Homo sapiens: one gene and its partner. The protein of the gene in region 1 interacts with the protein of each later gene in a pairwise test. Each region holds a gene or a part of one and is shown in the gene's direction. Other genes may lie near its edges.

The links.
Region 2: the proteins of SETD9 (region 1) and PLCG2 interact in a two-hybrid assay, tested with the Homo sapiens proteins (one large-scale study listed by BioGRID and IntAct).

What each region holds. Positions count from the first base shown.
Region 1 is NC_000005.10:56,908,156-56,912,527, forward strand, and holds the start of SETD9 (SET domain-containing protein 9), read left to right. Parts: upstream 1-1,440; 5' UTR 1,441-1,490; coding exon 1,491-1,588; intron 1,589-1,901; exon of another isoform or gene 1,902-2,219; coding exon of another isoform or gene 2,220-2,239; intron 2,240-2,270; exon of another isoform or gene 2,271-2,765; coding exon of another isoform or gene 2,766-2,767; intron 2,768-3,013; coding exon 3,014-3,381; exon of another isoform or gene 3,382-4,069; coding exon of another isoform or gene 4,070-4,103; intron 4,104-4,372.
Region 2 is NC_000016.10:81,781,981-81,785,790, forward strand, and holds part of PLCG2 (1-phosphatidylinositol 4,5-bisphosphate phosphodiesterase gamma-2), read left to right. Parts: intron 1-3,810. UniProt on the Homo sapiens protein: The production of the second messenger molecules diacylglycerol (DAG) and inositol 1,4,5-trisphosphate (IP3) is mediated by activated phosphatidylinositol-specific phospholipase C enzymes. It is a crucial enzyme in transmembrane signaling.

The sequences.
Region 1 (4,372 bases):
TCAGGTTCAAGCGATTCTTCTGCCTCAGCCTCCTGAGTAGCTGGGACTACAGGCACGTGCCACCAACGCTCGGCTAATTTTTGTATTTGTTCTTTTTTAGTAAAGACGGGGTTTCGCCATGTTGGCCAGATTGGTCCCGAACTCCTGACCTCAGGGGATCCACCCGCCTCGGCCTCCCAAAGTGCTGGGATTACAGGCGTGAGCCACTGCGCCCGGCCTTGGCTGAGTTTTTATTAGATCTGAGCCGTTCAATTTCAATAGTTTAGGATCCAACCTCACTCTCAGGCAAAGAATAGAGGAAATGATACCAACGTATTTATCTGTCAATAAACACTTGGTGATTTGAATATGGTTAAGGGATTCCTGTAGTTTGCCCCCCTTAAAACTGAACTTTGTCCAAACCTGTTCTAAATATGTGTGTGCGTGTGCATGCATCTGGGTGTTGGGGAGGAGCGGTCGTAAAGTTCCTTTTAAATTTCACCTATGGGGGACTACTTCCCACCTCATCCTATGAAGTCAACATTAGCCTAAATACCAAAGCCAGATTAAGACACTACAAGAAAACTACGAAACAATATCTCTCACGAACACAGATGCAGAACTTCTAGACAAAACGTTTCCAAATTGAAGCGAAGACCATATTAAAAGGACAAAAGCACCTCAGTGGTTGCTTGGGGACTGGGGGAGGGGCTGGATTACTATCTTGGCTGTGGTGTCGAAAACCTATCAAATTGTTCACTTTAAATATGTGCAGTTTATTGTATCCCAACCATTCCTCAACAAAGCTGTTTTTCAGAAACATTTGTCCATGTAGTTTTGCCTTTGAATGGTTGGGTCAATGAAGAGAAAAACGAGTGAAAACAGGGAATCATGACACTTTGTTTTTTTACGTGTAAATATTCGCAAAACGCCCAAACTGGTAACTTTGGGAACACGGGTTCACGCAGAAGAAGGGCTGCTGTCTGGGGAGGACTGAAACTCGGGTTCCCGAAGTCGGGCTGCTCTGGGGCCACGGAGAGAAGGGGAGAGAACGTCGAGGAAGAGGCAGAGCTCAAGTGGACGGAGGATGGAACACAGAGCGCGGCCGGGACAAAGGGGCAGGCCAGACAGCCGTGACAGAGAAACTAGGCGGTCCGCTCCTGGGACGCGGTCTCGGGGGCGGGTTCGCCCCTGAGGCCCGGTGACCCTTCGCCCGCAACCAGGGCTAGCGCTTGTGTGCGCCCACGGAAGCACCCGAGCGACCGGAGAAAGAAAAAGTGGTCAAGGGGACCTCCTTCCAGCTCTACGCGCCTCTCATTCAGAGAGGTGAGGTCAGGAAAGGGGAAGGACGAAGCCCCAGAGCAACAGAAGTCAGGCGGTGCCAGGAACACTGAGAGCGGAGCCAGGGGAAGGCGGCCGAGCGCGGCCCCCTCTCCTCCCGGGCCGGGGCGGGCCCGAGGCCTCGATCCGCCTTCCCCGCGCCGTCCTGGTCACGGCCCCGCGGGGCAGCCATGCCTGGCCGTCTGCTGCGGGGCCTGTGGCAGCGATGGCGCCGTTACAAGTACCGCTTCGTTCCCTGGATCGCACTGAACCTAAGCCACAACCCGAGGTGAGAGGGCGGGACGGCAGAACGAGGGGCACCTGCCTTCGGTTCCCAGACGCCACCACGGCGGCGGGACGCAAAGCGGAGAGCCTGAGGCTGACTGCCGGCCTGAGATGGGCGGGCCCGGGTGGGCAGGGACTGAGGTGGGCGGGCCGGGTGGGCGGGGACTGAGGCCTCGGAGGGGTTTAAGGAACGCGGGCCAGAGGCGGGCGGGGCCGAGGTTGGTGGAGTCCGAGGCCCGCTGGAAGCCTGAAGTGGGCGGTGGCTTCAGGTGGGCGGGGCCTATGGCCTCTTTCCCAGTGTCCGCTGCGCTGCCGGGCCCGCGAGGCCGAGCTCGCCAGCCGGATGTGTCGCCTGTTCTTCCCTGTTGCGTTCGGCACTGACTGGGGAGCTTGTATCTGGGCAAAAATGGAAACTTTTTAAAAAGACTGCCCTTACCGCGTGAGAGTGCGTGGCTTTTTCTCCACCAGGGGTTAATTAGGTGCTTGAACTTCCTCAGAAAAGCCAAGCCAGGGTTTATTTTCATAGTTCATACAAGTACTTCACGTGGTTAAAGAAGCCCATCCCGGCTGTGAGAATAGCGTGCAGTAGCTCGCGCGTTAAGAACGGGCAGAACGCCACTCAAAAGCACGTCGGGATGGTGGGTTTCGGATTGGGGTGAGTCCCGCCGGCGTTATTAAGGGCGCACCAGTGATCAGCTCAACACCGTGCTCACCAAAGAGGCCGACCGGGCCTCCCTGAAGTCAGTGTCCGACAAATAGGGAAACAAAGCGGTTTCCGGAAGGTTGCATGCTAGGGAAACAGGAGATCAGTTGTATCATGACTCGGAACCGTGAGGCGGGAATTACAACCTTTTTGTTCAAGTAAAAATAATGCAGTTAGTACAAAAAGATAATGATTATGGAAATAAGAGGTGCAGTCATTGAAGACGTTAGTCGTCCTGGAGGGAGTGTCACAAAGTATACGATGTTGAATTTGTCTTTGAAACTACAAGGCCATTTTTAAAAAGCCATTGAATGTGAGGTCATTCATTCTCATTGTGATGACATTCAGCTTGGCTGTTGGGTGTAGTACGGGAAAGAGCTGAACTTCGTTTCTGCCTCTGGCTCTCCCACTTACTGGCTTTGGGACCTTGAACAAGTTCCCTAACAATTTTGCTTTCCTTGTCTGCAAAAATGGAATAATGTAAGGACCCCACAGCATGTGGTATAGAATGGGCCTTTCATAAGTACTGACTACTTGGGTGGGAAGTGTTGGGAGTTAGCTAACTAGAACTCCCTCAAACAATTCTTTTCTGAACTTAGTTTCCAGCCCTCCACACACATGAGAATAAGCTTATAGTTCCTTAAGGCCAGGAACCCAGAAGTTATGCAGGTAAGTTTGGCTTTTATCAGTTGAAGGGTAGTGAATAGAAACTTTTCCCATTTTCAGGACCCTCCGATATGTTCCAGAGGAATCCAAAGACAAAGTTATCTCAGATGAAGATGTCCTAGGAACATTACTGAAAGTTTTCCAGGCTCTATTCTTAAATGATTTCAATAAACAATCAGAAATCTTGTCTATGCTTCCAGAATCTGTTAAATCAAAATATCAAGACCTACTGGCAGTTGAACATCAAGGGGTGAAACTGCTTGAAAACAGACATCAACAGCAAAGTACCTTTAAACCAGAAGAAATTCTTTACAAGACTTTGGGTTTCAGTGTTGCCCAAGCAACTAGCTCATTGATTTCTGCTGGAAAAGGTGTCTTCGTTACTAAAGGATTGGTACCAAAAGGCGCAGTCGTATCTATGTATCCTGGTAACAGCACGATTAATATTATACTTTGCCAAGCTTCTTACGTATTGATAAACATAAGTTCAGTAACATACCCAGCCTTGCAATCCTTAGAGTAAGGGATTAAATTGGAAACTCGAGTTTCCATAGATTTTTGCAATTCTAATTCGGAAATTAACTGTTTGTAAATTGTTTTGTGTTAGAAAGTATCCTGGAGTATTTGTTGGGATAAATGCACTTTTTCTTTCAAGGAAAGCTTTCCTGTCAACGTTTAAATTTAGAACATAGTATGACCCACTTTGACAAATTACTTAAAAAGCACTAGAGAAACATGTCAGTTTGGTTTAATTGATAGCTAAGGATAAAAATGGTATGGATAGGCTCACGCCGGTAATCCCAGCACTTTGGGAGGCCGAGGCGGGCAGATCGCGAGGGGTTTGAGACCAGTCTGGCCAACATAGTGAAACCCTGTCTCTACTGAAAATACAAGAAATTAGCCAGGTGTGGTGGTGTGCACCTGTAATCCCAGCTATTCAGGAGGTTGAGGCAGGAGAATGGCGTGAACCCGGGAGGCGGAGGTTGCAGTGAGCCGAGATTGTGCCATTGCGCTCCAGCCTGGGTGACAGTGCTAGGCTCCATCTCAAAAAAAAGAAAAAAAAAAAGCGTACGGATCAAAACATAAAAGACAACATTTAAACCCATAAGTCACCGAATGAAGACCTTCCTGCCCTTTCTACACTTGGAAAGTAAGGCAATTTCTTGGCACAAGATCATTAACTAGAATGCTAAATAGACTACGTTATGTGTTAAACTAACATTATATTATTTGGTATAGTGGAAAGTGTGTGTGTGAATATTTGAGTCAGATAGACCCAGGTTTTTAAAAATTCATTCTCCTGTTTTCTAATTTTACATCCCCAAACAAGGGAGTTTCAGTTTCCTGCTGTACGAGTAATCTAATTTTGTAAAGACTAAATAGAATAAATAAATTAATACTAAAAGAAGTTTAATAAAT
Region 2 (3,810 bases), on another chromosome or scaffold:
CCTGCCTCAGCCTCACGAGTAGCTGGGATTACAGGCATGTGCCACCACACCCGGCTAATTGTTTTGTATTTTTTTTTAGTAGAGACGGGGTTTCATCGTGTTAGCCAGGATGGTCTTGATCTCCTGACCTCATGATCCGCCCACCTCGGCCTCCCAAAGTGCTGGAATTACAGTCATAAGCCACCGTGCCTGGCCCATTTTATGCCTTTCTAAATAAGCTTATGAGATACAAGAACATGAATGAGCTTATGAGATACAAGAAAAACCTTTAGAAGGACATGAAATGTAAAAATGGCAAAAATCAGTTATTCAAACTCAGCCATATTTGTATTTACAAAATAAGTCATTTTATAGAATTACCCATTAAGAATGGGAAACAGGAACAAAAAAGGGATTTCAAGGCTTTTTTTTTTCTTTTTTTGAAAAAACCAAAAAAAGCAGAAGCAAAATGGAAGTTGCTGTGGTGGCTGGTGCTCTCTCCTGGGCTCAAGGTCTTGGAGACCTCCCTGCCATAGTTGATAAAGCGTGGAACGCTGGAGACCTGAGCTGGGTGCTGGCAGGATTTGAATGGTGGACTCCAGGGATCTTTTGGCCGTGAAGATCTGTTTCCAATTGCATCTCATAAGCTCATTCATGTTCTTGTATCTCACAAGCTTATTTAGAAGGGCATTTCGTGAGATACAAGAACCCCAAACCAGAAATCAAGGAAGTTTTTCTCTTCAGTGCTCTGTGCATGTTAAGCCAGTACAGGATTTCATCCAAAATCCCACAAAACGATTCTGTTAAAATGGGGCACAGGCAAATACTTGAGTGGTAAGGGCCCCTCCAACAGTTGAATGGACATTACTGCTGCACCTTACACCCACCCTGCAGCATCAGAGGGGATACAGTGTTTTCAAAGGAACGGTGTCAGCCACTGCAGGTGAGAGTGTAAATTCCACCCCTGCTCCTTTAGGGCAACCTGTGAGCAGCTATTACAAAGCAATTGGTGAGACGCAGCATGGAAGTCTGGTGTTTATGGCTGAGTTGATCCACTGGGCTTCGAAGCTGGAAGTAACTGGGACCCTGGGGAAGGTTAAGTCCAAGGCCCTCCCAGAGTGAGGGCTGGAAAGAACTGAGGAGCCTGGTCCCTTGTCCTGGTTTCTGTCTAATTGAAGGTGTTATAATGGGGCTTGTGTTTCCTACTTATGTTCCAGTGGACTATGGCCTAGAGACCTGGGAGTGGGGAACTCCAGGATGCATGGCTGGGAACAGTCAACATAGTGAAGAGCTCTGTGGTTGGCAGCTGGGTCAAATCCAGTTTCAGCTACTTTTTTAAAATTTTATTATTATATTATTATTATGCTTTAAGTTTTAGGGTACATGTGCACAACGTGCAGGTTTGTTACATATATATACACGTGCCATGTTGGTGTGCTGCACCCATTAACTCGTTTTGCTACTTTCTATCTGTGTGACCTCGGATAAGTCCCTTAACCTCTTTTGAGAGTGGCAAGTACTGGCAAATCAGTTAATATCTGGCCAGATGCTGCCACAGGATTCTGGACTAGGGGCTTGGGACTCAGGTGAGGGTTTTGATCTTTGTGCTGCTGCTGGTCTACATGACTTTGATCAAGTAATGTGACCTCTTGGGATTTCAGTTTTCCGCTGCCGTATTTCCCATTGAGATAAATGAGACGAACCAGACACAACAGGTGCTTGGCACCTGGGGAAGGGCCCAATAAATGGCTGCTTAACAAGGATGAAATGGACCATGGGGGCACCTTGTTCATCCCTTTGTCCTGGCTAATGATCAGGAGGTCATTTTGGGTTTCTCCTGATAAGGTAAGATGCACATTAACTCTCAGCAGGGTTTTTTTTTAGCATACTCTGTTCTGCCTCCTAGCCTTTGCTTAAACTTAAAGCCAGTTCCTCCTGCTTCATCTTTTTTGAAAGATTGAGTTCAGATGCCTGCTTTTTTCCCCTGAAAGCTTTTTCTGAGCCCTTTAAGTGCCTAGCCACACTCCAGATTAAATTTAGGATTCCTTCTTGCTGCTCTCTGCCCGCCGTGCCCCCAGTGCATGCTTCTGCTGCTGCACTTGTAACTACATTAGAATTCTCAGTTGATTAGTCTGTTTCCCCATGGGCAGAGAGCAGGTGTAATTATCTCCTGCTGCTGGCATGGCTGACCGAGGAGGTCCCTTTGGTATGGGTGTGCAGTAGAGGGAGGTGGGGGCAAAGGGCAAATCCTGGGCCCCTCCCCATTCCCCTCATTTGCATCCTAGTCCCCACCTCAGTGCCTGGCATAGAGTTGACATTTGATTAATGCCTTCCCCAATGGCTGATTAATGCTAACTGAGACCCTGGTAAATGCTGCAGGCTGTGCATACATTGTAGCTTTTTGTCTTCCCAGCTGCCCCTTGTGGGCATTTAACCTCCATTTTACAGATGAGGGAACCGAGCCACAGATTTAGAGCAGCTTGGCAGAAGGCTGAGCCCGGCTGGAAGCACAGACAGCCCTGGCTGAACACCAGCCTCTCACTCCTCCTTCTTTGGATCCTGGGAGGGTCTCTCTAGTGCTACTCTGTAACCTTGAGAGCTACAGAGTAACAACTCCAGGCACCTCCAGGGACTTGGAGGGAAAGGAGGAGATAAGAAACAGAACAAATAATGGTAATTTTAACAATAGCTTAATCTAAGGAGTGCTGACTTTGTATCATTGTTTTAAGGGCCTGAGATACATTATCTTGTTTAAGCCTTACAAAAACATTTAGATGGTGGATACTGTTACCTTCTTTTATGGGACTGGAAATGAGCCCAGAGGATCTAAGTGACTTCTTGCAGCCTAGCTGGCAAGGGGGTCCCTGGTGGTTCAGCTCCAGGGCCTGGGGAGCGCCTTCACTCTAAGTCCTATTTTGGGGGCAGGCAATGTGTTTCTGGGGATTTGGGAGGCAGAATGAGGGAATGGTACAGAGTGAGGGCTCAGGGAGGGACTAAGGGATTTTGAGCAGAGGAGTGACATGATTTGATTCATGTTCTAAAAGGATCCTTCTGGCTCTGCATCTGAGAATTGACCCTAGCAGGTCAGGGAAGAAGTGGGGAGAGCAGGATTAGAATAGTTCAAGTATGAGATCCTAGGAGGAGCCGGTGAAAGGGTGAGATGCGTTGGAAGTGGTCGTGAGAGAGTCCACGCAAGGATTCCTCCAAGGTTTTGGGCCCAAGCACCTCTCTGACACTGACCACCCACAAGCATAAACAGCAATCAAGGACACCTCCTAGGTGCTGGCCGTCACCCCAGGTGCTTTGCTGGGGCATTTCTGAACACTCCCATTTTAAAAAGGCTAAAACTGAGGCACAGAGAGGTCAAGCAGTCTACCCAGAGCTACACAGTCAGCAGGAACCTTCTCTAGGGTTTGAACGTGAAGCTGCCAAGACCTGACATTTCCTGCCTTTCATCCTCATTTCTATGCAGAGGAACCATTTGCCAAAGTCTCCATGGATGATTCTGAAGGTTTAGTTTGTTTTTCGTTTATTTCATTTTTTTTTTTTTTTTGTTCTTAATTTTGCTCAGGAATAAAGAGATGGTTAGAAATCTCTAGACAGGATAGAGAAGGATGTTGGAGATTAGGGGTGAGAGGTGGGAGCCAGGCTGGGCTGCTTTGGCTATTCAAATATTCTTTAGGATAAGAGTGGGTGGGGAGAGAGGGGACTCACTGCCAGGTCAGGGTGATTTGGTTATTCAAAGCCCACGTAACGGTTGGGTCCTTGAGGTCAGGGGCTCTTCTCACACTTCAGTTTCCATTTAAACCTTTGTGTCCTGCCTTAGCTCTC